Linked DNA regions of Homo sapiens. The protein of the gene in region 3 purifies or fractionates together with the protein of the main gene of each other region. This does not show direct contact. Each region holds a gene or a part of one and is shown on either strand. Other genes may lie near its edges. The genes, in order: GALNT16, CTU1 and SCPEP1.

Region 1 (10,850 bases), on a different chromosome or scaffold from region 3:
GTGTGTGCCACCACGCCCAGCTAATTTTTTGATTTTTAGTAGAGACAAGGTCTCATTATGTTGCCCAGGCTGGTCTCAAACTCCTGGACTCAAGCAATCCTCCTGCCTTGGCCTCCCAAAGTGCTGGAATTACAGGCATAACCCACTGTGCCTGGCGGTTTCTCATTTTTTCACCACAGCTATTGATCTGCTGGTCAACAGCTTCTGCTTTGGTTGCTTTATTTCCTTAGGATAAACTCCCAGAAGGGAGAGAACAGGGCTAAAGGGGACGAATGTCTCTGCAGCCTTTGCTATGTAATGCAGTGTTGTTTCCTAAGGGGATAACGTCCATATCTAGATCTGAAACCATTAAAAATTCGGTTCCCACCACACCTAATTTATAACCCCTAGTAATGCCCTCTCAGTTCCCCCACAGCCGTCACGTGAAGATAAAACCCGGCAGCTAGAAAGCCAGATCACCAGTGTTGAGGAGATCTAAGGGTGGGGTGGGACCAAAGCCGCTGGCCCCAACCACCCCCTACCCGCCTGGGGGATGCACAAGATGAGGGCTGCACTCACGTGAGCTCTGGGTAGACGTTCTCCAGGTACCAGCGGAAGGACTTGCAGTTCATCTTCTTCCTCTGCTCTATCCGCGTAGCCACACTGTAGGAGGAGGCAGGGCTTGGGCTTTGGCCTGCCAGTGTGGAAGGCAGCCCGAGGGAGGATGCCAGAGGCCTGTCCCCCAGCCCCAACTATCTCAGGCAGGCAAGGACCAGGAGACTTCCAGCCTGCCATGTCCAGCCCTGGCCACTTATCTGATGTTATTCTCTGACTTGCAAGCTCAAGGCAGGTCTCCTGGCTATGCCTCACTCATCAAATTCCTGCCTGGAGCTCACCTTTCAGGGTGAGCACAGACCATACGGGACCATGCCTTTCTCTCGGCTTCTCACTCCTTAAGACCTCTGTTAGCAGACCATGAACTGGTCTTTATCTTTGCAGAATTAATGAGAAGTACAGGAGGAAGGTCTAACAGCAGGAAGAGCAAGCTTTAAACATCTTTAGATGTGTTGGCAAATAAAACCATTAGATGTGTCCTTGGGACACCGCCATCCTCACCTTCCTCAGGTACACCCACCACAATGGCCACTGGTTGACGGCCCTCGTCACCAGCTATCTGAGCCTCAGTTTCCTCTACATTCAACTGGGGACACGACCACTCATCTCAGAAGGCTTTTGTGAGAATCAAGTGAATTAAGTGTGAAGCACTTAGCACAGGGCAGGTGCTAAGTAAATGTTAGTTCCTCATTACAAGAAATATTTAGTGACATAACTTATTTTTTCAAAAAAAGGGAGATAGATATGAATAAATAGGGAGAAGATTCATTGATCATCATTAATAGTGTTTTCAAACTTTTCTGACCACAAGCTTAAGTAGGAGATAACTATCTTACATTTGTAATATAATACGCCCCATGTACAGTCAGCCCTCAGTATCTGTGGGTTCTGCATCCATGGATTCAACCAACCTTGGATCAAAAATACTTAGGAAAAAATTTCAGGCCAGGTGCAGTGGCTCATGCCTGTAATCTCAGTACTTTGGGAGGCCAAGATATGCAGATCGCTTGAGATCAGGAGTTCGAGACCAGCCTGGCTGACATGGTGAAACCCCATCTCTATTAAAAACACAAAAAATCAGCTGGGCATGGTGGCACGTGCCTGTAATCCCAGCTACTCTAGAGGACGAGGCAGGAGAATCGCTTGAACCCAGGAGATGGAGGTTGCAGTGAGCCTAGATTGTGCCACTGCACTCCAGCCTGGGTGACAGAATGAGACTCCATCTAGAAAAAAAAAAAAAAATTCCACAAGGTTCCAAAGCCAAACTTGAATTCGCCACGCATCGAGTACCACATTGAATCCATGCAAATGACGTGATGTGTAGGCATTGTATTAGGTATTATAAGTAATCTAGAGATGATTTAAAATATTCAGGAGGTTGTGCATAGGGTATGCAAATACTACACTATTTTATATCAGGGACTTGAGCATCTGTGTGGATTCTGGTATCCGTGGGGGGTCCTGGAACAAATCCCCTGCAGATGCAGAGGGGCAACTGTACATGTGTAGGTACATGCATGCACACACATGCACCCACAACGGAAATAAGAGTTTCATAAGGACAATACTAACCCTTAACTGCAATCAACTCTTATTTTCTATCCTGCTCTGTACTAATCTAATCTATAGGGTTCTACTTCTCTCTCTCTCTTTTTAAATGCTGGTCACGACCCACTAAATTGATTTCACAACCCATCTGCATTTTGAAAATGCTTAACTAGACCATAGTCCTAACAGTCCATGACAGGAAAATAGGCTAACAGATCTCAATTTTGAACAGGGAGTGGAGGCAGAACCCCAAATGCTTTCTGCAGGCAGCCCCCTCCTAAGCAGTTCCACAGATGCCTGTTCTTCTGCAGGCAGCTGTGGACAGGCAGCTCTTTTTCATAAGCGAGCCTTCTCTCCCATGAGATTTCACGCTCCTCAAAGCCTAAGGTCTTGTCTCTGCGGTTGCATTCCCTCCCAGGACCCAAAGAAGCCCATTAGAGTGGGACCTCAGTGGCTGGGGAGGTGGCGGGTGGTTCCCTGGCGTACATACCACTTCGTATTTTGCTGGGGTTGTGCTAATGTGGGTAGAGGGAGTCAGACAGTGGAGCTGGGGGGGCCCACCTGCCGAAGGCCTTCCCGATGGCCGAGGGCCGGGCCTCATAGTAGTATTGCTTGTATTCATCCATCCACACTTCTGCAGTGCGCTTAGTATTCCTAAAAGGAGAGGAAAGAGCAAAATAAGGTCACCAGGGAAGCAACAGGGTTAGCGGTCAGGATCAAGATTAATCGATCCATGAATACAGGACGATGAGAATCTCAGGAGCAAGGTGATACTTGGATGGTATAGATTAGCACGGTCCTTTTGGAAGACAGTCTGTCAATACCCATCGACTTTGTAGGTATGCAGCTAGACTTGGGCAGCTGCTGCTCCAGACGCTGTACGAATAAGCATGAGCTCGACAAGGTGAAGAACCATCCACATGTACGAGGGTGCTCATGACAAGTCCCTCATCCTCCCCTGCCAACCTCCTCAGGAGAGCAGACCGTGGAGTGGTCTTCTAGGACATTACCCACTCTCCCTTGAGACTAGTGCACCCTGTAGCTGGGGATAGGGATGGACAGATGGTTGATCAAGTCAGGGTTGGGGCACAGGCATCCATGACCAGCACTCGGGGCTCCATGAGTGGAGAGCATGGCTTAGTTGGGGATTTGGCCAATTTTCCGAGACTCATATGGACAAAGGAAGTCCATATGAGTCTCAAGGCAAGAGAGACCTGGTGGCAACTCCCTCCACCCCTGAAGGTACCTGCAATCCCAGGATGTTACCAGAGGGGGCAAATGGGGAAACTGAGGCCCAAGAAGTGAGGTGGCTGCCCACAGTCACATAGTGATAACTGGCAAGGCTGGGGGCTTGGGCCTTGGTGTCCTCCTCTGAGTCCCGTGCTCCTTTCTCGGTGACCTACCTGATGTAGGTGAGGGCATTACCCTCAGGGAAGTTGTAGGGGTGCCGTTTCCTGAAGACATGGCCCACCCGGCTGCAGGGGACGATCTCCAGACTGCCACCACACATCCACACCCTGAAGGAGAGCTCTGCAGGAAATAGTAGCCGTCAGGAGGAGGAAGGGGTTCCTTGGCAAGTGAGGGTGGGAAGGGGCTGGCTTCCCTTCCCTTTGGTGTCTCACTGGAGGTACATGTTGGGGTCGGGGCTCCTGGGCCTGCTCAAATGGAGTGCTCCCACTCCTTGCACAGGTTCCTGACTGCCCACTCTACGTGTGTACGTGCACATGCACACACACACATATACACATGATCCCCGTGGCCCATTCCAGGAAGAGCAGTGGAAAAAGCTTGAAGGAACACCAAGAACATAAGTAGAAGGAAAACAACCAAACAGTGGCATCATTTCCAGGCTCTGTCTAGAAAGCCCCAGACAGACATGAGCTAAGGAAAAACACATCTGCTCGTCAGCCAGCTCTGTGCACCTGAGAGGTCGGAAAACCAGCCACCAACCAAACCACAGGCTGCTCCAGCTGGCACCTCTTGGGCTGGCCCCAACCTCCCTCTTGACCCAGTTGGTCTCCTTGTACAGGCTCTCACTGGCCCTCTTGAGCCATGCCTCCTTTTGACAGCGGTGGTGGAGCTGAACCAGCTTTTGTGGATGACTGTGGTCCCCAGTGGTGTCGGGAGAGCAGTGGCCATCCTGCTGCCCAGAAGGGGACCTCAAAAGTTACCACTCTGATCTCCGCTCACCAGTTGCCATTTATGGTAAGGACCCACCTTGACAGCTGGCTGAATCTCACATAATCTCTTTTGATTTCGTACTTTCCTTCATATTAACCCTATAGTCTCTTCCCACTCCTCAGCTGGCTCTAAGGACACTCATGATCTCCAACCAGGCCTGGGGGCTCTCACGTGGCATAGCTGGTCAGGACCCTCCCAGTAACTAGCAAAGGGCAGAGTGGAGGAAGCAGGACTAAAGCCCACCTCTGGCCAGCCTGTGTGCACCAAGTGACGTCCAGATGTGGTTCAGGGCCAGGACCGGACACTTGGCATACCTGGACCCACATGTAAGGATGGCTATATCAATGGGCTTCCCTAGGTCTGCCTATAAACTGCCAGGCATCCGTCCCTTCTCCTGGTCAGAGCTCTGTGTTTGGCCTCAGCAACTAAGGCGTAGAACTGGGCACAGTCCTGGGGGGCCGAAGATCTGCATTCTGGTTCCATTTCTGCCATCCCAACTTTGTTATGCTAGTTAAGTCACTTCATCCCACTCAGCCCATAATGTCTATAATATTATTAACTATTGTTATTATTATCAACAATGGCCATAACAATAGCAGTAACCATCCATTTACTGAGTACTTACTACATGCCATGCTCTTTCTATCCAATATCTAATTCTCACTGCAACCATGTGAAGTCAGGATTTTTAGCCTTATTTTTTTTAACGAGGACGTTGAAGCTCAAAGTTGTTAAATAACCTCTCCAAGGTCACTCAAATATTCAGTTGCAGAAGTGCAGCATCAAGTTCACATTGTGTCCAGCAAGCCACACTGTCAGATTCTTTAGTTCACTCAGCAAATTTTCATTATATGTCAGACACTGCTCTAGATTCCCTTGTACTCTAGCAGGGAAGTGAGAAGACGGGAACTCCATAAAATAAGGGGCAAAAAAATGCAAGTAAACAAGAAAATGCATAAAAATGTAGCATGTCAGCCAGGTGCGGTGGTTCACGCCTGTGATCTTAGGACTTTGGGAGGCTGAGGGCGGCAGATTGCCTGAGCTCAGGAGTTCGAGACCAGCCTGGGCCACATGGTGAAACCCCGTCTCTACTAAAATGCAAAAGAAATTATCCGGGTGTGGCGGCATGCACCTGTAGTCCCAGCTATTTGGAAGGCTGAGGCAGAATTGTTTGAACCCGGGAGGCAGAGGTTTCAGTGAGCCAAGATCGTGCCACTGCACTCCATCCTGGGTGACAGAGGGAGACTCTGTCTCTAAAAATAAATAAATAAATAAAATGAAAAAAATAAAAATAAAAAATAAAATAAATACAGCATATCAGATGGTAGTTAGGGCCATGGAGAAAAATGAATCAGGCTGGGAGCTGAAGAGGGCCAGTGGATGGTGGTGGGGGAGGACTAAGACTATGTTTTAAACCAGGCTGATGAGGGGAGTTGTCACTATAAAAGGGACATTTGAGCCAAGACCTGAAACAGATGAGGGAGCAAGTCCTGTGGCTAGCAGGAGAAGAGCATTCCGGGCAGAGGAGCCGGCAAGGGCAGGTCCCTAGAGGCAACAGCACAGCTGGCAAGTTCAAAGAGGCCATGCTGGCTGGGGGCGGTGGCTCACGCCTACAACCCCAGCCCTTTGGGAGGCTGAGGCGGGTGGATCACCTGAGAGGTCAGGAGTTCGAGACCATCCTGGCCAACGTGGTGAAACCCCGTCTCTACTAAAAATACAAAAATTAGCCGGGCCTGGTGGTGTGTGCCTGTAATCCCAGCTACTCAGAAGGCTGAGGCAGGAGAATCGCTTGAACCCTGGAGGCAGAGAGTGCAATGAGTAAGATTGTGCCACTGCCTTCCAGCCTGGGCAATAAGAGCAAGACTCTGTCTGAAAAAAAAGGAGGCCGTGCAGCCCACGTGGAGTGAGGCAGGGTGGGAGAAGTGGGAAGTGAGGGCAGGGGTGTGGCTGCGGGGCTGCAGGGAAAGGCAGATACCCTGTAGCCAGTAAGGAGTTTGGGTTTTCCTCAGAATGACATGAGAACTCTTGCAAGGTTTTGAGCACAGAAGCAACATAATCTATGTTTTAAAAGGATCCCCAACACATCTTTGTTGGGGATCCTAACCTTGCACATCTGCCAGCCCCACTCAAGGTGGCCTCTGGGCTCCCGAGTTTGGAATTCTTTGGGGACAAAAGAACACGTCTTGGTTTGGAAATCTCCCTTCCTTCAATAAAGGAATAAAAGGAAAGGCTCAAACCCACCAGCGACAGGAGTCTCATAGCTCAAAACTGGTCCCAGCGGCTGAACGTCTGAGCACTGCAGCTAGCCCAGACATTTCTTTGAATTTCTTCTAAGAAACAAAACCCTTGCCAGAACCACTCTGTGGTTCACCTTTCAAGTTCTCCAACCACGGAGCCCTTGCCTCAGGCAGAGTTTGAAATGAGCTGTTTGATCATTCACTTGTTTCTCTGTCTCTAGCCTCAGAAAAAAAAGAAAAAGAAAAAATGGCCTTTGGAGGCAGAGCAAGGAGACTGTGGGTTTCCCAGCTTTCCAAGTCTTCACAGGAAACTGGCTTTGCCAAAGCCCTTCAGGCCGAGATTGAAGACACAAAGCGGGTCACTTGGACCCAAAACACATGAAAGGGGTCAGAATGGAGGGGTCACTGCACCCCAGTTCCCAGAATTTACTTCTCTGAACCCTGCCTGGAAACAGCCTCCAAAAGCAAGTTACAAAGCTGGGGGAGTCCCATGCCCATTCCCACTCCAGCTGGTTTTGAGTCGGGATCAGGCCTGTTGCAAGCCCCCTCACTGCTATTTTCCTCATCAGGGAGAAAGAGTTAAAGAATCCCTGCTCCTAACGTCTCAGAGACATAGACTGTGCCTTTGCCAACGTCCCACAACACATAAGTGGCTCTGGTAAAGGAGCTGCATACGCCCATTAGATGTGGAGTTTCCGGACTGAAATCTAGAAGGCAGCATCCACCTCAGTCTTTCTACCTGTCAAATGGGTGAGATACCACCAGTGCTAGTTATTGCTCAGAACACCTGGTCAGGAAGAAGAAGGAAGCAGTGGGAGAGGGCTCTGTGAAGGACTGGGCCCACCAAGAGGGCAAGAACAGGCCACCAAGGACCTGCCCCTGCTCCTGGAGACCCCCAGAATGGTGCTCCCCACCGCCCCCGTCTCCACGTCGCTGTTTGTGAGACAGCCCCTGGGGGCTGCACTGCTGGGTTCCCTTCCTCAGGCAGACAGGGAGGCACCAGCAGGAGATGACGGGGTGGGGGTAGAGTGAGGGTGAGTGTTTAGCCCTGACACTCTCCACCTGGTGCCATGGGCTGGCTGCATGTGCCCCAAGACCACAGCTCCATCGTGGGGTGCTCCCTCACCCTGTCTTTCAGACCTTGGGGTGGTTACAGCTCCCAGAAGTCACAGCCCTGCCCAGTACTGTGCTGTCCCTATGGTTCCCTCTATCCTGCCCGCACCATGTAAATAAGCCCTTTAATAAACACTCAAGTCGGTTGCACCTTCCGTATTCTGCCAGGACCCTAACTGATGCTCACCCTTTATCTAACCTCCATCTCACTTGCAACCCTGTTTTGCAAATGAAGAAACTGAGGTTCAAAGAGTTGACTGGCTTGCCAGCCCACACATACTGGAGTCCAGAGTTTGGGCTCCGATCCCACTTGGTAACCCTTCCCTGGTACTCTGTGGCCCCAACACCGTGAGCTGAGAAGCAAGTGTGTGAGGGTCCAGCCCCCTCCAGCTCCCTACTGGAACACTTTGCCCCCACCTCTGTCTCCTTCGCTGCTGCTTCAGGGCAGGGAGGGGCAGCTTCCTGTGCTTCTGAGTCTAGAGACTGCCTAATGACAGTGGCCACCAGCACTGTGACCTGCCTTTAACTCATCACCTCATTTAGTACTCATAACAACCTCTTGAGGAAACTCAGACTTTAAAGGGCTTTAACTTGCCCAGGGCCAAACAGCATGCAGGTGGTAGGGTCAGGGTTTGCACCCAGGCCATCTGACTCCATCACTTAGCATTTCACCACCACCCTCTACCACACACCTCCCAGCCTTGCTGGTAGGGAAGCAGCCACGTGTGTAAGCTGTGGTCTGTGATACAGTTGTGTGTTCTTCCACACACATGTCCAGCCATGTGACCACGGGCTCCCCCTAAATAGAACCTCTTTGTTTACTAGCTGTGTGGCTCTGGACAAATTGCTTAACTTCTCTGTGCCTTGGGTTTTAAAATCAGTAAAATGGAGATCATGGTACTTACCTCAGAGGGTCCTTGAGAGAATTAAATGACCTCATGTGTGTAAAGTCCTTAGAGCAGGTCCTCACGCATAGAAAGTGCTCTGTCAGGGTTAACTGTGGTTATTACTGCTACTGTTATTTTCACTGTCACTATTTCCCAACTCACCAAAATTCTCTCCCCCCCAGATGTCCATCTGGGCATCATACTTTCCCAAGTGGTTAAACCAGGACTTGTCGATCACGAAGATTCCTCCAGCTATGACAGGCGTCCTGGGAGCAAGGAGAGGGAAGACGCAACACGTGAGCTGGAGAAGCAAGGAGGCCCTTTAGATGGCCCCAGGACCCAAGACCGTCTGCCTCTAGATCCCTCCCTGCAGAGTCACTGGGGCAGGATGTCTGGCCAGCTCCCTGGCCCCCCACATCTGTTCCCGTGGCCTCTGTCCTCGCTGTCCCTGCATACAGGGTCCGAAGGCCCAGAACAGAGTCAGCACTTAGTGCGCCTCAGGAGCCCAAGCGACCGATACAGCCTCCCAAGAGCCTCCCAGGCCCCTGACCCAGGGAAGGAAGGGGTCCCCCAGAGCCCACCGCAGCTCTGACCTTATGGGCCTGGTGGGGTCTGTCCGGGTCATCTTCTGCTCAAGAGGGATCTGCTCCCACTTGAAATGCAGGCTCCAGTCGAACCCTAAGGGACACAGCAAGGTGAGGACAGAGCTCAGGGCAGAGCTGCGGGCTGCTGAGACCCTTCACTCCACCACCCCTCGGAGTCTCCCCTGATCAGAGCCCTGGGCTCTTCGTGCAGTCCCTCCTTCATTCGGAATGAGCCAAGCTCCTCCTCTCAGGAAGTGTACCATCTACTGGGTAAGACAGAAGCTACAAAGATAAATAAATCAGTGGAGACTATGTCAGCTGGGGATGAAAGTACTAAAAAAAAAAAAAAAAAGAAGAAAACAAAGAAGGAGTGCCCATACTATTAATATTTTAGTTAGAATAGTCAGGAAAGGCTCTCTGGTGACTTTGGAGTAGAGACCTGAATGAAGGATAGATCCATGAAGATACCTGGAGAAAGGGAATTCAAGGCAGGGGCAGCTGCCAGTGCCAAAGCCCTGAGGTGATTTCCCAAAGGGGAAATGCCTGGCTCCCTTCAGAATCCCACTCAGACTCACAATCTAACTAATGGCTGGGTCCATATACTGGGAGTCCAGATCCCAAACAGGAAATCCACTGTGCCCGCCAGCTCCCAGCAACAGATTCTCTAGAGCAGCACAGTTCCATAGAACTCTCTGCAATGATGAAATGTTCTGTATCTGCATTGTCAAATATGGTAGCCACTAACTTCATGTGGCTACTGAGCCTTGAAATGTGGCTAGTACAGTTAAGGAACTGCCTTTTAAGTTTTATTTAATTTGAATTAATGCAAGTTTAAGTAACCAAAGGTGACTATTATCTACTGTACTGAACAGCCCGTCACAGTCCAAAAGAAATATAATGCAAGGCACAAATGTAAGCCAAATACGTAATTCAAAATGTTCTAGTAATCACATCAGAAAAAGAATATATGAAATTAATTTGGACGAAATATTTTTAATGTAATATATCAAAAATATTGTCATTTCAACATGTAATCAATACAAAAAATTACTAATGAGGTATCTTACATTCTTTCACACTAAGTCTGGGTAACCTGTGGGTCTTCTATGCCTATAGCACTCTTAATTCCAACTAGTCACTTTTCAAGACTAGTCATATTTCAAGAGCTCAATAGCCAAATGTGGCTGATAGTTGCCATACACAACACTGGTCTTGACCATCTCTGGGGCGCATGTGTTAGGAAGTCATGTGAGGCTGAGGGCTCCCTACTCCCCATCCTCAAGACAGCTGTCACATCATGGCCTTCTGCCGGGACTTGTGGCCATGATCCCTAGGCTGGCAGCATTTGGGAAGAAAGTGTCAATATTTGGAGGGAGGGAAAGATGAGAGACTAGTCTGGCTCTGCTACTGATTGTATCAGAAGCCTGCAACTGCCAGCTCTGCTCCTTTGTCCCCAGTCCCAGGGCTGCACCCAATCCCTCTTCATTTTCTCTTTGGAGGTGGTGGAAGGGGTGTTCATGAGGGTCTCTGGCACAGCTGGAAAGAGCAGCAAGCAAGGGTTTTTGCCTGCCTAGCCTCACCTACCTCCTTTCATGTCTACAGCCCCACCCCCGGGAGCAGAACTCACCTCCACGAAGGTCAGCAGATGCTGCAAGGTAGGCAAAATTATCCAGACTGATGACATCAATGATGGGACTCACCACGCG
Region 2 (10,850 bases), on a different chromosome or scaffold from region 3:
TTGGGGGGAAGAGTGGGAGGGGAACGAGGGAAAAGAGACAACAAATACAGTGCAGTGTATACTGCTCAGGTGATGGGTGCACCAGGATCTCACAAATCACCACTAAATAACTTATTCATGTAACCAAATACCACCTGTACCCCAACAACTTATGGAAAAATAAAATATTAAAAAATAAAAAATAAACTTTTAGATTCTTCTACATACCAGTTAAAAAAAATTGGTGCTGAAAACCCATTCCTTATGTCACTGAGCTAATGAGGAAGGCAGGCACACTTGGCACTAGGACTGGCACACAAGCGTCATCCTATACAATTGATCTTGATCATCTTGCACCCCCTACAGCTCATTCTCCTCACAGCAGCTGGAGTAACTTTTAGAAAATGGAAATTGGACCCACTGTTGGGACCAAAGCCCTCCAAAGACCTACCATCACTCTTAAAATACAAGTCTTTCTTGCCAACAGAAGACCATGCACGGCCCATCCCTGCTTAGTGGCTCGTTTCATCTCTTGCTATTCTCCTCCTCACCCACTCTGTTCCCGCCACACTGGACTTGCTGTTCCTTGCACTTGCAAGCTGATTCCCACCCCTCCAGGCTTTTGCACCAGCAGTTCCCTCCACCAGGAAAGCTCTTCCCCCAAATGGCTCCATGCTTTGTTCTTTTGCTTCTGTAGGTCTGTGCATAACGTCACTTCCTCCAAGGCCCTTCCTTCCCTGACCCCTGTGGAAACAAGCTCTTCCTGTCTCTCTCTCTCATCATTTTTTTTTTAATTTGTAGCATTCATCACTACCTGACATTACATATTGATGTGCTTGCTGTCCGTTTCTCCCAGACTGAACTTCATGAGGGCAGAGACTTGTCTCCTGTTCACTGCCATGTTCCTAGAACCCAGAGGAGTGCCTGATGCAAAGGAGATGCTCATACACGTTTTGAGTGAATCATCTAGTCCTTGGCCTCCAGCCCAAGTTTGGGTGGCCACACAGTGAAGACAGGACTGAGAAGCAGGGGTTTGGGAGAATACTAAGCCCTGGGTTGGGTGATGGGAGGAGAGAATTGAGAAGCCTTCTAGGAGGACCCTGGAGGATCTGAGCAGGGTGATGGGAAGAAGGGGCATTTCTGACAAGAAGCCAGCCCAGCAAGTCCTGGAGGTGGGACTGAGAGCACCATCTCCCCGGGAAGTTTGAGATTCTCACAACCTCCCCGTACCTGTACAGGACAGCAACCCTGAGACCCGGCGCCCCCTGGTGGTCAGACAGTAACATGAACGACCAAGTCCAAGTGGTCACCATTTATTGAGCACCTCAACTTCTCTGATCTTCCATTTCCTCCCAGTGGTGCCTTGATGCGGGGGGGATGGGGGGGCGGGGGGGAAGGGGGCTGATTATATTTTCATAGGAGAAATGGGACATGAAAGAGGCTAAGTCACCGACAGGCTCACACAACCCTGCCTCCAGAGTCCAAGGTTTGGGGAACGCATCCAACCCCTCCTCACCCGTGACAGAGATACCAGGAGAGATTCGAGAGGGGATGGGTGGGGGAGGACCAATTCCACGACCTGTGATATTCGAGAGCTTTGGAGGGAGCCCTCGGTGTGACCCCTTCCGACTGGGTGTCTTAGGGCCATTTACCACTTCAGGCTACAGCCAGTGAGACCGTGGTGGAGACGAAATGAGGGTGCAGTGCGTGCTACACACGAAGCGCTGGAAGGGAGGCATCGTGACGGCGGCTGTGAATGGCGTGTGTCCATCAAGTCACGCTCCGCTTACCCCACTGCGGGCAAACAGGAAACATCAGGAATCTGATGCTCAAGGAGGGTCAGGACCATGCTGAGCGCACCCAGAACCAGCAGAGGCCCTGGGCAGGAGGTCCCCAACCAATCCCCACTCGCTCAAGAATCACACGGTGTTCAGCCCCCTCCTCCCTGAGACCCAGGAGTCCACGACCCCAGGCCCTCCTTCCTCAGCCACAGATGCCTGGGGTCCCCAGTCCCACTTCTTCTAGGCTTAGTCCTGGCCCTCTCCTCTCTCAGACCTAGGATGGTCCCCCAGCCCCCTCCTCCCTCAGAGCCTGAAGCCCAGTTCGAGACCCTTCTTCCCTGAGACCTCGAAGTCTGGGGTCCCAGCTTCTTCAGGGTTTCAGGTGAATGGGCCCCCGTCTCCTTCCCAACCCCACATGGAAGGCCAGGTAAGGTAACGGGTTTATTCACAGTGTCATTTACAGGCAGCCCCCACCCCGCGGCATCAGATCCCGGCGGGAGGCCCGAAGTCGCTAGAAGGTGGGGACGGCCTTGGAGGCGGGGGGCCGGGCCGGATCCCCGGGCGTCCCCGGCGTCGCCTCCTCGTCCAGACCCCGGCGGCCCTTGCCGATGGCCAGGCGGGGCCGGCCGCGGTTCAGGCCGTCCAGGAGCGCGCAGGCCTGGCAGAGCGCGCGGCTGGCCAGCGCCCCACAGCGGGAGCAGGCGCCGGGGCGCGGGGGCCGCGCGGCCGGGGCCAGCGCCAGGCGCTCGGCCGAGTGCACGAGGTCCAGCACCGCGGACGGCCGCGCCGCCTCCAGGCGCTTGAGCAGGTCCCGGGCGTGGCCGCGGAAGGCCTCGGGCGCGTAGACGCACTCCTCGGAGAAGTAGTCGAGGCGGCGGAAGTGCGCGTACAGCACCACCTCCTTCTGCGAGGCGAACTGCAGCGGGCGGCAGCGCGGCAGGGCGCCCCCCTCGCCGGGAGAGCCCAGGCCCCCGCCCCGGGCCAGCCGCCCCGCGTCGCCCCGTAGGAAGTTCATGAGCACGGTCTCCGCCATGTCGTCGGCGTTGTGACCTGGTGGGGAGAGAAGGGAGCGGGTGAGGTGGGGCGCGGAGGGCGCTGCTGGCCAGGGAGCCCCCCGGGGAACCAAGGGTCCACCAGGACCCAGAGAGAGACTGGGAGGAGAGACCCACGGAGACCCAGGGCACAGTGGGGCCGCCAGGACCCAGAGAGAGACGGCGACGGGGAGAGCAAGCCATGGAGACAGACCCCCAAACATGGTGTGACAGCCAGGATCCAGAGACAGGGAGGGGGAGAGAGAGCCATGGAGACCCCTAGGGCACTGTGGGCAACCAGGACGCAGAGAGAGACGGGGAGGGCAAGAGCGAGCCATGGAGACCCTCCGGGAACCGTGAAGCAGCCAGGTGCAGGCTGCAGGTGGACACAACAAAAAATCAAAGAGAAACATAAGCTCCCCTGGCGCAACTTGGGCGTGCCTTCATGTACCACCCGCCTACTGCATAGCGGACCTTATGCTAGTTGCCCTTTCATATAGGGAGTAAAAGTGCATTATGCTGCTAATAACCTTATCAGCCTCAGTTAAAACCGTAATTCAAACTGTACACAAAAATCAGAAGGCATTTAAGGCATTTAACCGAGATTCTCAGGAGAGCTGGAGGGGTAGGCAGGCTGCTGTCTCCCCCACCGCCTAGGGAATCCATGGCCTAATTCTGGGAACCTGTTAATATGTTTGGTTGTAGGACAAAGGGGAATTAAGGTTGCAAGTTGAATTGGGGCTGCTAATCAGCTGACTTTACAATAGGGACAGAATGGTGCGTTATCCAGGTGCGCTCAAGGTAATCACAAAGACCCTTAGAGGGGAGGAGGGAGGCAGAAAAGGGAGAGATAGGGCCATGGAGACCTTTGAACATAGTGGGCAGCCAGGACCCAGAGAGAGATGGGGAGGGGAAGCCTGAGCCATGGAGCCCCTCTGGCACCATAGGACAGCCAGGACCCAGAGACCGGGAGAGGGAGATGGGGCCATGGAGCCCCCTGGGCACTGTGGTGCAGCTAGGTGGTGGCTGGAGGTGGACACAGCAGGAATTGAGAGGGGAACACACACAAGCTCCCTGGGGAACTTGGGGATACCTCATTTGCCACCCGCCTACTGCATATGGGGGGTGTGAGGGCAGAGGCAAGGTTAGAGTGATGCAAACGGTGTAGGACTCAAACTGCCATCCTTGGCTTTGAAAATGGAGGAAGAGCCGGGCACAGTGGCTCATGCCTGTAATCCCAGCACTTTGGGAGGCTAAGGTGGGAGAATCACCTGAGGCCACGAGTTTGAGACCAGCCTGGCCAACATGGCAAAACCCCCATCTCTACTAAAAATACAAAAATTAGCAGGTCATGGTGGCAGGCACCTGTAACCCCAGCTGAGGCATGAGAATCTCTTGAACCTGGGAGGGAGAGGTTGCAGTGAGCCGAGATCACTCCACTGCACTCCAGCCTGGGCTCCACAGCAAGACTCTGTCTCAAAAGAAAAAAAAGAAAAGAAAATGGAGGAAGGGACCATCAGCCAGGAATGTGGGCAGCCTCCGGAAGCTGGAAAAGGCAAGGAAATGGACCCCCTTGCCCCAGAGCCTCCAGGAGAAAGGCAGCACTCTTGACACTTTGATTTTAGCCCGGTGAGACTTCCCAGACTTCTATCTACAGAACTACAAGATAATAAATCTGTGTTGTTTAAAGCTGTGAAATTTGAAGTAATTTGTTACAGCAGCCAGAGAAAACAACTGGTTCTTGACACAGAGCCTCTGACAACCCAGACTGTAGTTTTTTTATGGTTTTTTTTTTTCATTTTGTTTTATTGTGCGTGTGTGTGTGTGTGTGTGTGTGTGTTTGAGACAGGGTCTCACTTTAGTGCCCAGGCTGGAGGACAGTGGCACGATCTCAGCTCACTGCAACCTCTGTCTCCAGGGCTTAAGTGATCCCCCTGCCTCAGCCTCCAGAGTAGCTGGGACCACAGGTGTGTGCCACCATGCCCAGCTAATTTTTGTATTTCTATACAGACGCAGTTTCTCCATGTTGGCCAGGCTGGTCTTGAACTCCTCTGAGCTCAAGTGATCCACCTGCCTCGGCCTCCCAAAGCGGCTGGGATTACTAGCATGTGTCACCACCCCTGTAATCACTGCAGTGTTTTTGTGTTATCTTTGTTTAGAAGTAACAGTGAGAAATATTTACACACTGGTCACCATGAAATTGAAGCTAAACTTGTTCTGTGTCTTGTCAAGTTATACTTGAGTCTATATCAGTGGTTCTCAATCTGGGATGAGTCTGCCCTCCTTCCCTCCCCCAGAGACATTTGGCAATGGCTGGAGACATTTCTGTGTGTCAGGTTGGGGGTGGGGCACTACTATTAAATAGCATCTAGTGGGTAGAGGCCAGGGATACTGCTAAAATCCTATAACACAGAGGACAGCTCCCTAAAAACAAACTATCTGGCCCCAAATATCAATAGGGCTGAAGTTGAGAGGCCCTGGTCTATATGGTAAAAAACCTCCAAGAACTTGGCTCTAATTGTGTTTGTAGTAATGGTTACCTCCCAAAGACCTGCCAAGCCCTGTGACCTTGAGATTGGGCATGTTTGCTACTGCAAACGACATCTCGTTGAATGTTTATTGACTTAAAGTTGTAAACCACATTAATTAGGGGAGACTGGATTTGCTCCACACCTTGTCATTACAAACCCACTTAAGAGCTCCCAGTTTTGTAATAATTATTACAACAATTATTATACTACGCCTTTGAAAATGGAGTGTATAAACAAAGGGTAGAAATCACCTTGCAAGTCAGGGATTTTTCTGGAAGGCTTCATTACTTTTGGAAGTACAATTAATAAGTGATTCTATCAAATTAACTTTAAAATCCGAGGCAGCCTCTCATTCTTTTTTTTTCTCCCCCAGCTGGAATCTTGCTCTGTCACCCAGGCTGGAGTGCAGTGGCGTGATCTCGACTCACTGCAACCTCCGCCTCCCGGGTTCAAGCAATTCTCCTGCCTCAGCCTCCCGTGTAGCTGGGATTACAGCCGCCCACCACCACACTCAGCTAATTTTTGTATTCTTAGTAGAGACGGGGTTTCACCATGTTGGCCAGGCTGGCCTCGAACGTTTGACCTTGTGATTCCGCCTGCCTCAGCCTCCCAAAGTGCTGGGATTACAGGTGTGAGCCACTGTGCCCGGCCGAAGCCTTTCATTCTTTCCATACACTGTCTGCTCTTGTATGGTAAGGATTATTCTTCCCATTTTCAATCACAGAGATCTAGGGATTTCTCCAAAGTTACTCAGTAAGGAAAGGGCCACATCAGTGAATGAAGCTCAGTAAGCCTTCCCCAGAGCCAGTGGCCCTACCTAGCATGGTGGCACATGACAGCCTCAGAACTACTTTTGCCTTCATATGCTTTCAGTGTGCTGATTCTCTCCAACCATCATCTCTCACCTCCATCACCGCAGCTGGCTTCCCACTGACTGGTCTCCTCGGCTTTGTCCCTGTCCCTCCAACCCAGGTTCCTCGCCATGGCCTGGGTGAGCTTTTCAAAGTGAAACTCTCTTCATGTCACTTTTACTGGTTCCGCCACAGCCTACAGGGTAAGGCCTGACCTCTTCCACCTCTCCAGCCTCCCCTGCCCTTGCTTTCTGGGTTCCAGCCACACTGGACTTCTTGGGGCAGCCCAAATTGGCTTTTCACAGGCCAATAACCTCTCCCTAATTCTTACCCGCTTTACCTCTTCACTGTGAGCCTTCAGATTTCAAAACCGTTCCTTGACCCCACTCCCTCCACGTCATAGGGTTCTCTGTGTGTACACATAGTCCATAACATGTCCATACATGGTCAATAACATGTATAATGTTTATAATTTTGTACCTGATAACCATGCAAAGGTAGGAACTTGTGCGTAACTGTATTCTCAGCCCTAGCCTGACAATGATGATGATAATAGCATGTATAAAATGTGTAATCTATATTATATCATACGGGTTATGTAACATAACTATAATATAGATAACGTTATACTTCTACTGACTCATCTAATTGTCATAACAAGTTTATGAGCTGGGTACCATTCATAGTCCTGTTTTAGGGATGGGGTGAAACAGAAGTACAGAGTGGTTAAGAACTTTGGTATGGCCACAGTTGGGATCCGGCATATAGCAGAAACTTAGCATCTGTTTGTTGAAGGAATGGATGAAAAAGACAGAATAAAAAAGTTATCTTCCAGCACTTTGGGAGGCCGAGGTGGGTGGATCACGAGGTCAGGAGATCGAGATCATCCTGGCTAACATGGTGAAACCCCGTCTCTACTAAAAATACAAAAAATTAGCTGGGCGTGGTGGCAGGCACCTGTAGCCCCGGCTACTCGGGAGGCTGAGCCAGGAGAATGGCGTGAATCCGGGAGGCAGAGGTTGCAGTAAGCCGAGATCGCACCACTGCACTCCAGCCTGGGAGACAGAGCGAGACTCTGTCTCAAAAAAAAAAAAAAAAAAAAAGTTATCAAAGAGGAGAGGCCAACCAAGAAAAGGAATTAAGAGATGGAGATGCTTTTTAGAGAAAGAGCTGGATTCTGAAAGGTGGACCATAAGAGATCAAGCATGTTAGAAACATTTAAAAATAAGTAAAGGACCAGAGATCTCCAGAGATTTTCACCTCCCACCCCTTTGGCAATCTGTGGAGACCAAGACGGTGGCCAAGACCCAAAAACCTTTGTGATCACTGCCTGGCCCCTCTGTCTCCCCAGCGTCTTGAACCTTTAAAGGGCCCCAGCCCCAAACTGCAGCATGCGCCCTTCCGCACCTCCGTACAGGGATCCTCCCATTAAGCCACCAGGGTCTCCTCGCCGCCTTCTGGAGCATGCGCCTGAATCCCCTTTCAGGTCCCGCCTCCTCGCCTGTGCATTCGCCCCACTGCCTCGGAGAGTGCCGCTCTGCGGCCCGTACTACGCTCACCTGTCACGATGTGCGTGGCTCCCACGCGGCGCGCCCCTTCCTCCAGCGCCCGGCGCCGCAGCACTCCACAGAAGGTGCAGCAGGAGCGGCTGCGGCCGGAGCCGGCTGTGCTGCGGGCCACGGCGTCCATCGTCCAGCCCCCAAAGAGGTCTTCGTAGGCCACGACCGTGAGCGGCAGCTCCCAGCGCGCCGCCTGGCGCCGCACGGCCGCCAACGCCGCGTCCCGGTAGCCACCGATGCCCTCATCGACGGCCACGAGCTGCAGTGAGATGCCCAGGCGCGGCGCCAGCGCGCGCAGCACGTGCGCCAGCACCGTGGAGTCCTTGCCGCCCGAGGCGCCCACGGCCACCACCGCGCCGGGCGGCAGCAGGCGGCCGGCGAGCACCGTGTGCAGCACCTCGGCCTCGAAGGCGGCGCAGAAGCAGGCACCGCACAGCGCTTGGCCCGAGAGCGGACGGCGGAGGGCGGCGCGTGCAGCATGGCAGGAGGCGCACGGCGGGGCGGGCATTGCGGGAGGGGTCGGCTTCTCCTAGACAGGGAGAGAGAGGAGGTGGGTTACATATGGATTCCGGATTGCAGGGTCCCTGCCATCGGGGAGATTGTCTGGATTGCACCTCTGCCCGGAATAGACCAGGGAGACGTGTGCGCGAGTGGAGTAGCTTCTTCTAGCGCTGGGGATAGGATGGTTATAAATAGGTCCGGTGTAAGGAAGCCACTGCCTTAGGGAAGGCTTCTTGGATTGCACCCATTATGCAAGAAGAAGAGAAGTAGCTTAAGAAGCTGGCTTCATGGGTAAAGAGAGGGAGCGACAAGCAGGTTATACCCAGGATTAGGTTGTGTCCTCTCCAGAGGGATGGGGGTGTATATTAAGGCCCATTTGTCACAACCTCCAGGGAGGCCACCCTTGTTACAGTCCTGATCAGGACAAGGTAGGTATCATTGGCCTGGGCCACCAGGGCTGTTAAAAGCCCTTGGGAGGTGAGGGGTTTTTGACTCTAAGGGCAGAGGGAGGCCAGGGGACTGAAGCTCTGTGCAGCGGGAGGTGGAAAACAGGAAAGGCCAACTGATTGCACTTTGTAGGGTGGGATACGGTCTCCAGGAATGGGTTCTGATTGCATCCTATGAAAGGCAGGGTGATCACCTTCTCCAGGGAACACAGGCAGCCTGGATCACACCTCTCAGGAGACCAGCTGGGGTTGCACACATTTTGAGGGTGAGAAAATGGGTGGGCCTCCAAGATTGAACTCAACCCTGCTCTGGTATCAGAATGCCCCACAAGCTTCTGTGCTCTCACCAAGACATGGATCGGCCCATCTTTGACCTTCATCTGTTATCTTTCCTACTTCATTCTTCCCCACCCAGCCTAGACTCCAACCCTCCAGTCAAATCCTGGTCCTGCCTGCCTGGTGAACCCATAAAAACTCCCCAGGCTCAGTTCTCCTCCCCAAGCCACCATCACCTCCAGCCTGGACTACTGTAGTCACCTCCTTGCCATTCAGAGCAGGTCACGCTGCTTCTAGGATTTACCACAATGTGTGGAATTATTTTATGTGACTATATATTTACCATCTCTAACTTCTATGAGGGCAGAGACCAGTACCACTCAGATGTCTAATAGGCATCTCAAAACCCAAATTCCTGATTCTTCTAACCCAGCGTGCTTCTCCTGGAGTACAGGGCAGCTCCATCCTTCTAGCTGCTCAGGCCAGGAGCTTTGGGGTCCAGGACCCTGGACTGCTCTTTCTCTCACTGCACTTGTCATGCTCCCAGTGGGTGGCACCAAACTGCAATGCCAAGTCCGGACCTTTTCAAACTCCAGGTACCTAAATGAAATTTAGCAAATCCTGTTTGAATGTAGTTTCAAAACAGCCAAACACTTAGGACCGTCTCCACGGCAGCACCCTAGTCTGGTCTGTCTCTCTCCTGGACGGCTGCATGGGGCTCCCCACAGGTCTCCTGCTCCCGCCTTGCCTCCTCTACAAACACTCCTTCACATAACAGCCAGTGGGATCATGCCCTGAATCTTCTCAGCATCCTCCCCTGGATCCCATCTCACTTTAGTATAATAACTGCTAATGGCCGATGAGGCCCTACATGTGTGGCTCCTTGTTTCTCCAACCTCCTCTCCTTCAGCCTTGATGTCGTTTACTCTGACACCTGAGGAATACTCCTGCTCCAGATGTTTGCACTGGCTCTCCCCTCTGCCCTGAGTACTCTTCCTGCCACTGAGCCCAAGAAGCAGCCCTTAGGACTCATCTGCAGTGACCGTCGGGAACATCTGTCACAGGTGAGCAGCAACTCTTGGAATCTTTCTTCCCCCGACTTTTGACTCACTCCTTCTGTGCTCCTGGATTTCCTGCTCAATTCTCTTTTGGGGACGCCTCTTCATGTCCTCAGGTCCTGCCTAGCACCCATCTCTTTCCATTTTTTAAAGATTTTTAATTTAATTTAATTTAATTTTTTGAGATGGAGTCTGGCTCTGTTACCCAGGTGGAATGCAGTGGCACAATCTCGGCTCACTGTAACCTCTGCCTCCCAGGGTCAAGCGTTTCTCCTGCCTTAGCCACCCGAGTAACTGGGACTACAGGCGTGTACCACCATGCCTGGCTAATTTTTTTTTTTTTTTTTGTATTTTTAGTAGAGATGCGGTTTCACCATGTTGGCCAGGCTGGTCTTGAACTCCTGACCTCAAGTGATCCGCCCGCCTCGGCCTCCCAAAGTGCTGGGATTACAGGCGTAAGCCACTGTGCCCAGCTTCTTTCCATTCTTATGAGCGCCTCTGAATCATGATATTCAGATGTCCCTCCTGGCTGGTCCTCCACATGGCTGGGGCACCTTAAAGATGTTCAGACCCTAAGCGCCCAGACAACCTATTTCTTCCTCGAAAGGCAGAAACCTGTTCTTGCCCATCTGTTCCCTCTCTTCTGAGAGCAGCCACCACCTTTCATCCAGCCCATCTGCAGGACAGGACGTAACGTCACCCTGGACTCATCTCTCCTCACCCCCTAAATCTACAGTCACCCAGTCCTGGGGGGTCCACGTCCTGAGGAAGGGAGACGCTCGCAGGGGACAAGGCTGCACAAGTTAGCAGAGCCTCATAGGCCATGATGTGGAATTT
Region 3 (8,988 bases):
AACCTGCCCGGACAGCAATGGAAGGGCGGCTTCTAATGGCCAAAAAGGTTTGAGGTCCCCTAGCTTCATCTGTGCAGGTGACTCATCTCAATGTTCAGAATTACATTTCTTCTCAATCAATGCACTAACTTTTAACAGAAGAGACTCTGTGAGGTTGGGAATTCAACTTGCTTTATGATTCACTGCTTTGTTGGATGGTTCACCAAGACTCACAAGGCTCAGTAGCAGGTTATACTAATAGCTAACATTTTTGTAACAAAAGATGCATATCAAAAGCGGCAGGTAAAAACGATACACATGGGTGATGTCCAGGGGTATCCAGCACAGGCTTCTAAGGTTCTTGCTTTCCATGGGCACACTGGAGTTCTTGCCAACAGTGAACCATAGGGACATGTGTAGTCTCTGTCCCAGGAGCCTGTTTTTAGTCTCAGGGTCTGAAGGGGTTAGTCACGTAGACATAACCTGCTGTTAACTGTTTCCTCACAGTCTGCAGGAATAAGCTTTGGGTTTGTTATTTTTTTTAATTAATTAATTTATTTATTTATTTTTGGGACAGAGTCTTGCTCTGTTGCCCAGGCTGGAGTGCAGTGGCGCGATCTCGGCTCACTGCAAGCACTGCCTCCCGGGTTCACGCCATTCTCCTGCCTCAGCCTCCCAACTAGCTGGGACTACAGGTGCCCGCCACCACGCCTGGCTAATTTTGTGTGTGTGTGTGTGTAGAGATGGGGTTTCACCGTGTTAGCCAGGATGGTCTCGATCTCCTGACCTCGTGATCTGCCCGCCTTGGCCTCCCGAAGTGCTGGGATTACAGGCTGGAGCCACCGTGCCTGGCTGTTTTTTTAAATCTCAGCCTTTGGCCAGGCTTGGTGACTCATGCCTGTAATCCCAGCACTTTGGGAGCCCAAGGCAGGTGGATTGCTAGAGCCTGGGAGTTCGAGACCAGCCTGGGCCACATAGTGAGACTCCAACTCTACGAAAAAATTTTAAAAATTAGCTGGATGTGATGGTGCTTGCCTGTGGTACTAGCTACTTGGGAGGCTGGGGCAGGAGGATCATTTGAGGCATGATTGTGCCACTGCACTCTAGCCTGGGTCACAGAGTCTCAATAAATAAATAAATAAAATCTCAGCCCTGCAACTACAAGAGGTGATATTTCTTTCAGACAGTCCTAGAAGCTGTTAGATCCCCTATGCAGATTTTTTTTTCTTTTTGAGATGGGGTCTCTGTCACCCAGGCTGGAGTGAGTGGCTTGATCATGGCTCACTGCAACATCAACCTCCCTGGCTCAAGTGATCCTCCTGCCTCAGCCTCCTGAGTAGCTGGGACTACAGGTGTGTGCCACCATGCTCGGCTAATGTTTTTATTTTTTTTGTAGAAATGGGGTCTCCCTATGTTGCCCAGGCTGTTGTTGAACTCCTGGGCTCAAGCATTCCTCCTGCCTCGACCTCCCAAAGTGCTGGGTTTATAGGTGTGAGCCACGGCATCAAACCTCCTTATGTAGATCTTGAGCTATGAATAAAAAGTTAAAAGTCCTGAGCTAATTATTTTGATTTTAAGGAAATGTGGCAATCCTCTGACTAAATAATTACACTTTTATGAATTTATTCTAAGAAAATAAGGAGGTACAAAAAAATCTAACTATCAGGGTGAATCAACAGAGCACTATGTATAATAGCAACAAACTAGAAATTATTATACTTGTCGGAAACAACTGGGAATTTTGTAAATAAACTAGAGTACAACCATAAAGTAGAATGCTCCACAGCCATTAAAAATGTTAGAGAAGAACATTTATTGACATGAAAAGGTGTTTCAGATATACTGATATGTCAAACAAATAGTAAAACAACATAGAGTAATGATTCATTTTGGTAAAAAATATATATGTATATATAGAAAAAAAAATTCTGCAAGGACATATGCTAAATTGGTAACAGTGCTTACCCCTGGGAAGGGGGTATACAGATGTTGATTTACTCTTTGGGTACCTGTATTTCCCAGTTTTTCTATAAATCACATCATTTGCTTCTGTCATAAGAAAAAATAATATCTATTATCATCCTTTATTTTGATCAAAACAAATCAATTTTTTAAAAAATCTTAGGTTTTTTTAAGAAGCAGAAATAATTTCCAAATTGCCTCCAGAGACAATGATTTTATCCTCTGCAGAAGCTGGTCAGAACCTTCTTGATCACAGCCCCAGTTAGATACAGGGAAGAATGGCGCTTCCTACAGCTTCAGCGGCCTCAGCTCAGCTCTGTGCCCCAAGGCCAAACCAGCTCATCTCCAGCCCCATCCATCCTATTCTTGCTGAGTCACCAGTCTCATCATCTTCAGAGCCATGTCCCCTTGGTCAGAAGGAACCTAGAAAAAAACAACATCTGAGTTAGTGCTCCTGGTGCTATTCCTGGGGCTGGGGTCAGAGGCAACATCCTGAAACCTTGCTCCCAAAAGGGAGCCAGCTCTGTGACAGCAACCTGTGCAGACACCTGGGCACATCCCTGAGAGAGGGTCCTTCCTGAAAATGACTCCTGCACTGGATGAAAGCTCTTCTGGGCCCTGACTGGGCTGGGTGGCAGGGACCTGGAGAAGTCAGCATTTAAGACAAGAACCTTCTACTCCATTTGGAGCTGATCTGTTGATTTCTTGGTAAGGGTCATGCTAATGATACTAGACCTAGCCTGTTCAAGGAAGAAGGAAGATTCTAAACATTTTAAAGGCATCTGTCTAGAAGGGATCCCGGATTGAGAATAGAGAAATGGCTGAGAAGGGAGCTCACAGCAGAGAGCCGCAAATAATAAAAACAAACAGGGCCCTTTGGGTGGCATCCGATTTTCGCAGTTATTCAACTTTCTTTTGTTTTCCCTCAGATTTTTAGAATAAGTCCTTTAAAATTTCCTTCCCACACAGCATCAAAAGGGGGAAGGGCAGAGGCCTCAGTTTCTCCCTACACAGAAGGGGTTGGAGTATATGGTCTCCCCGTTATGTAATTCCCTGGCTCCATGATTCTCTATGGCACACCCATCCTTGACTCTTCTGCCAAGAGTCCCCAGGAGGCACAGGCAAGGTGGGTTATCCTAAAATGTCATTTAATCAATGAAAGGGGAAGTGGTTTGGGGACGACTTAACAACAGTCTCCAAGGGCTATTTTAAGCCTGTCCCCAACTGATCTGTTGTTCTATATGTGACAAACCAACAGGAAATGGGCCTGAACTCTAGTATACAGAGCGCGTGGTTGGCTTGTTCCATGCCTTCCTACCAGCCTCGTCAGGGACTTCTCTCTAGGGCAGGCTGAGCATCCCTCATTGGAAAATCCAAAATGCTCCACAATTCCAGCCTTTTTGAGTGCCACCATGAGGCCACAAGTGGAACATTTCACACCTGCCCCATGGGCGGCTGCATTCAAAATGCAGGCGCACAACACACAGTTTATTTCTGCATCCCCAAGGGGGTTACAGTACAGTAACCTTTTAATCAAAACACAGCATTGTAGGTAGAGACCGAAAGCTGCTGTTGCTTGCTGTTGCTGTTGTCTAGCAGCTGACACAGGTATTCTGGTCATGCTACTGTGCTGCTCAGTTACTCTGAACACACAACTTTTCCACTGTATTAATGGTATGTTGTATTTCTTACTGTGAAGTACTTATGTGTGACTACATGCAAGAAAAAGATTGCTTATCGGCAGCATATAAATTTGGAGTCAGAAATGATATGATGCCTAACAACCACAGATTGGTTGAAGAGCCATGGGTGGCTGAAATAGCCACCCTTTGCTCTCTAATAACTCAGTGCACACAAACTTTGCTTCATGCACAAAATTATTTAAAATATTGTACGAAAGTACCTTCGGTCTATGTGTATAAGGTGTATATGAAACATAAATGAATTCCATTGCCTAGACTTGGGTCCCATCCCCAAGATATCTCATTATGGATATGCAAATATTCCAAAATAAAAAAAAAATTAAAAATCTGAAACATTTCTGGTTCCAAACATCTCAGATAAGGGGTACTCAACCTGTAACAGTGCTTGCTCTAAGACGTTCTAATTTTCTTTCTTTTAGTCAATATTGAAGGTACTCAGATCCTGAGAGCCATAAATAATGCCCTCTCCCTCTGTGCCCTGCTGCCTTGTTTGTTCTCCCTTTAGATTAAGTCTATTTGTTTATTTATTGATTTACTTTTTGAGACAGAGTCTCACTCTGTCACCCAAGCTTTCAGGCTCAATCAATCCTCCCACCTCACTCAGCCTCCAGAGCAGCTGAGACCACAGGCAGGCGCCACCGCGCCCAGTTGATTTTTGTTCTTTTTTGAGACAGAGTCTCACTCTGTTGCCCAGGCTGGAGTGCAGTGGCGCTATCTCGCCAGCTGGATGCAATGGCACTATCTTGGCTCACTGCAACCTCTGCCTCCCAGGTTCAAGCGATTCTCCTGCCTCAGCCTCCTGAGTAGCTGGGATTACAGGTGCCCACCATCATGCCCAGCTAATTTTTGTATTTTTAGTAAAGATAGGGTTTCTCCATGTTAGCCAAGCTGGTCTCATACTCCTGACCTCAGGTGATCCACCTGCCTTCGCCTCCCAAAATGCTGGGATTACAGGTGTCAGCCACCATACCCAGCCTAGATTAAGTGTCTTTTGAGAGTGGGCTGCTTTCTCTGGCTTCTTAAAGGAAGCTACTGTCTCTTCTCCTCACTACTCATTCATTTTCTCCAGTCTTTCCAATCTGGCTTCTGAGCTTGCCACCTCACCAAAATATCTCACCAACGCAGGTGCCAAGGACATCGGTGTAAGCACATCATCACTCACGTTTCAGCCCTTCCCCTGAGTTCTCACTTAGCACTGCGGGCCCCTCCCTGCTTTGGGGATGCCACGCATCCCTGGTCTCCCTTCTCACTTATCTGGCTGCTCCTTTCTCAGTCTCATTTGTAGGCTCTTCTTCTGCCTTCTGTTCTATAGGCAATTCAAACTCAGCTTGTGCAAATTCCCTCCATCGCAAACCACAATGCTGGAGCAGAAACCTGCAAGCCACCCTTCAGTTCTTTTCTACCCCAAATGATTACCAAGTCCTGCCAATTTTCCCTTCTTTACACTTCACCAAATCCATCTACTTTCCTCCTTTCTGGATTTACCTGACAGCCTCATTGATTGGTCTTTGGCCCCAGGCTTGCCCCATGCCCTCTACTGCTAGAATGGTATTTCTTGGACAAATCTGTTAATTTCACTCCTTTGCTTAAAACCCCTGCTTGGTGCCCTACTGTCTGAACTCCTTAGAGTGGTATGAAAATTCCCCCTCTGCAGCCACCTCCCTCCAGTGTCCATTCCAAGTCCTCGCTGTCTGAGGCTCCTGTGGACCTTGTATTCACTGCTCTCCATGCTCCCCACCTCCTCCTCTTTCCTTAAATCACTCCTACGCATCACGTGGGGCACAATCTTCCAGATCTGCATGCCTGGGCAGGGCACCCTTCCCTGGGCCAAGCCAGCTGTTGACAGTCTCCTTGCCTGTCTGTCTCTAGACCACAAGCTCCTTGAGGACAGGGACTGGGCACCACTCACCCTTGTGCTCGCAGTCTCTAGTGCTAATAGCGGAATTTTGTTAGGAAACTCAAAACACTCCCAAGCCCTAAGTATTTCTTTTTTAATTTTTCTTTTTTTTTTTTTTTTTGAGACAGGGTCTCGCTCTGTCACCCAGGCTGGAGTGCAGTGGCATGATCTTGGCTCACTATAGCTTCTAACTTTCAGGCTCAATCAATCTGCCCACCTCACTCAGCCTCCTGAGCAGCTGAGACCACAGGCATGCGCCACCGTGCCCGGTTGATTTTTGTTCTTTTTTGAGACAGAGTCTCACTCTGTTGCCCAGGCTGGAGTGCAGTGGTGCTATCTCGGCTCACTGCAGCCTCCACCTCCCGGGTTCAAGTGATTCTCGTGCTTCAGCCTCCCAAGTAGCTGGGATTACAGACATGTGCTACCACACCTGGTAAATTTTTGTAGAGACAGGGTTTCGCCACGTTGCGAAGGCTGGTCTTGAACTCTTGAGCTCAAGCGATCCACCCGTCTCAGCCTCCCAAAGTGCTGGGATTGCAGGCATGAGCCTCTGTGCCTGGCCTAATTTTCATATTTTTTGTAGAGACAAGGTTTCTCCATGTGGCCCAGGCTGGTCTCAAACTCCTGGGCTCCAGCAATCCACCTGCCTTGGTCTCCCAAAGTGCTGAGATTACAGGCATGAGCCACTGTACCTGGCCCTCGGGCCCTCGTACTTCCTACAAGACCCACCTGGGCAGTGGACAGAGGCATAATAACCGCCTGTGGCTTCCCTCTCAGGATGATTTTTAAGTCTGGAACAAAAGCTCTTTCTTACCATATGACCAGCTTTCAGAATCCAGTAGAAAGCAAGGTTCTTGTAGGACTTGACAAAAGCAGATGTTTCCAAAGATTTAGGGTCACTGTACAGGGCCTTCCACTTCAGCTGACTGAATTTAGGCAGTTCTGGCCACTTCAGTTTCCGCACCCAGGCCTCCTGACCTGGTGAGAAGGACAAAGAGAAAGGCCTGGCATTAACAGCTGGATAGAATAGGAAAAAAGTCTAGGTCCTAAAAGTTGGTGCTTCCCAAACTGCAATATGCATGAAACTCACTCAGGATCTTGTTAAAATGCAAATTCTGATTCAGAAGATCAGGGTAGGGCCTGAGCATCTGCATTTCTGACTCCCAGTGAAACCTAGGCTGCTGGGAGAAACCTAACAGCTGCAAAGCCTGACTGATTTTGCCTCTGCATCTCTCACCGCCATCTGCTCTTTAGGAAGGGAACTGGGGACCTCTGGAGGCAGACAGGCCTGTGAGGAGGACTGAGAGATGTCGTGAACGAGATAGTGATAAGGATCACCTGGGATGTTCATCGAGAAATGCAGCAGCTTTCCAAATTGTCCTTGGTGTCTCTTGTTTACCCATCACAAAAATATTCAATCCTTCTGGTTCACGAGGCGTGTCACATCCGTCAGACCTTGTGCCTCAATTACCCTGCCAGTTCAGAGAACCTGTCTCTGAGCCTCCACCAGGCCCTATTTAATTTGGAAGTGAGCAAATTAAACAGGTGGTAGGTGATAGGGCAGGAGTCAGGATTCCACAAAGACCATTTCCCCTGGGTCTTCAGGGTTACAGTCATTAGGGTTTAGTTTTAATTCACTCTGCAGTGGTCAACATCGACTGTGATGTCGCACAAAAATGAGGCTCTCCCTTAATTAAACAGCGCATTTGCCCAATAACCAGGAAAATGTCTAAGTTTTGTGGTAGAGACAGGTGGTGTTCTTTTCTTTAATCATACCTAAGGGCCCCCAAACCCAGGTAGGCTCAGGCTTCTGAGGGGTCACAGCCACGTGCAGCTCCCCACCCTTTGAATAATCAAGGTCGGGGTAGACGGATGTAATGGGAAATGGCCTTCCACCTGGCATTTCAACATCACCCACCGCAAGACTGACATGTCCAAGGCCAGTTCCCTTCCAGTTGAACCCATAAAACTGCCTCTAGGTGCCTCTCAGAGTCAATTCCTACCCATGGTATCTACGATGAGATCCAGCTGTCCATTATACACCGTCACGTTGATCCCTGCCTCCAGCAACTCGTCCACAATGCTAATGACTGGCTTCATGAAGTCCTCCTCCATGTTCACAAAGACGTTGGTAGCCTGGCCTGCACATGGGGAAGGAGAAAGAGGGAGTAGCTTGGAATCTGCCAAAACAGGAGGTACCTTTCAGCCCAGAGCATCTTGGGCTCCAGCACCGAACAACGACTGAATGCACAGATGCTTCACAAACAGGGATGAACCAGCCCAGAAATTTGTGCCGACTGGTCAGGTGTAAGGCACACATAAATAGCACATGTGGTCCATTCTCTTGAGAGCTTGTGATGACAGCAGGCACCATTTTTAATGAGGAATTGACACCTGGAATAGGCTACTGTCCAAGGAAACAGGGAGGGAGAGGCCCAGGAAATACTCATTAGGCTGGTACACTCAGGGAATAAATTGTGCTTTGGGCCAATGTCAGTTTTCCTGTTTTTTTGAGTAACACCAGGGCCAAGTTTCAAGTTCTGAACAGGTAGGCCTACCTTATAATAAACCAGATCAAACCTAAACCAATTCAGAGCTGGCCCTCAGGAAAGCCAAATGAATAACAAGCCCCAGGCAAGAGAGGAGCTAGTACTCTTGCTAGCTCCTGCCCATCAGCATTATCCTAACACTGAATGACAGCAATAAGAGTGGCAGCCACCATTATTTGCTAGTCACTGCCAAGGAGGCATCTGACAAGCAACATCCCATTTTCTTCTTCATTACCTTGGGAGATAAGAAGTCTTCTTTTAAAAAAATTTAATTTTTATTTATTTATTTACTTATTTGAGACAGAGTCTCACCCTGTCACCCAGGCTGGAGAGCGGGGGCACAATCTCAGCTCACTGCAGCCTCTACCTCCCAGGCTTAAGCGATCCTCCCACCTCAGCCTCCCAAGTAGCTGAGACTACAGATGCACACCACCACGCCCAGCTCTTTTTTTTTTTTTTTTTTTTAGACAGAGTTTCACTCTTATTGCCCAGGCTGGAGTGCAATGGCACAATCTTGGCTCACCGCAATCTCTGCCTCTCGGGTTCAAGCGATTCCCCCACCTCAGCCTCCCAAGTAGCTGGGATTACAGGCATGTGCCACCTCACCCAGCTAATTTTGTATTTTTAGTAGAGACAGGGTTTCTCCATGTTGGTCAGGCTGGTCTCGAACTCCCGACCTCAGGTGATCCGCCCACCTTGGCATCCCAAAATGCTGGGATTACAGGCGTGAGCCACCACACCCGGCCACACCCAGCTCTTTTCATTTGAGCTAATTTTTCTTCATTTCTAAAATTCTCCCAGCACTCAGGAGTAATGAAAAAACCAGGGATGGAATGAGACCTCTGGTGACTGCAGGTTGGGAGAGGAGGGCCCATGTCCCCTGAGAAAGCTCCCAGCA

The links.
Region 1: the proteins of SCPEP1 (region 3) and GALNT16 purify together in Homo sapiens (co-immunoprecipitation; 2 studies listed by BioGRID and IntAct, with this or other methods). This does not show direct contact.
Region 2: the proteins of SCPEP1 (region 3) and CTU1 purify together in Homo sapiens (co-immunoprecipitation; 2 studies listed by BioGRID and IntAct, with this or other methods). This does not show direct contact.

Annotation. Positions count from the first base shown.
Region 1 is NC_000014.9:69,331,473-69,342,322, reverse strand, and holds part of GALNT16 (polypeptide N-acetylgalactosaminyltransferase 16), read right to left. Parts: coding exon 10,772-10,850; intron 9,239-10,771; coding exon 9,154-9,238; intron 8,827-9,153; coding exon 8,723-8,826; intron 3,673-8,722; coding exon 3,546-3,672; intron 2,797-3,545; coding exon 2,704-2,796; intron 643-2,703; coding exon 559-642; intron 1-558. UniProt on the Homo sapiens protein: Catalyzes the initial reaction in O-linked oligosaccharide biosynthesis, the transfer of an N-acetyl-D-galactosamine residue to a serine or threonine residue on the protein receptor.
Region 2 is NC_000019.10:51,096,330-51,107,179, forward strand, and holds the end of CTU1 (cytoplasmic tRNA 2-thiolation protein 1), read right to left. Parts: intron 8,262-10,850; 5' UTR 8,241-8,261; coding exon 7,733-8,240; intron 2,811-7,732; coding exon 2,272-2,810; 3' UTR 1,277-2,271; downstream 1-1,276.
Region 3 is NC_000017.11:56,999,549-57,008,536, reverse strand, and holds the end of SCPEP1 (retinoid-inducible serine carboxypeptidase precursor), read right to left. Parts: intron 7,683-8,988; coding exon 7,545-7,682; intron 6,520-7,544; coding exon 6,356-6,519; intron 2,365-6,355; coding exon 2,302-2,364; 3' UTR 1,769-2,301; downstream 1-1,768. UniProt on the Homo sapiens protein: May be involved in vascular wall and kidney homeostasis.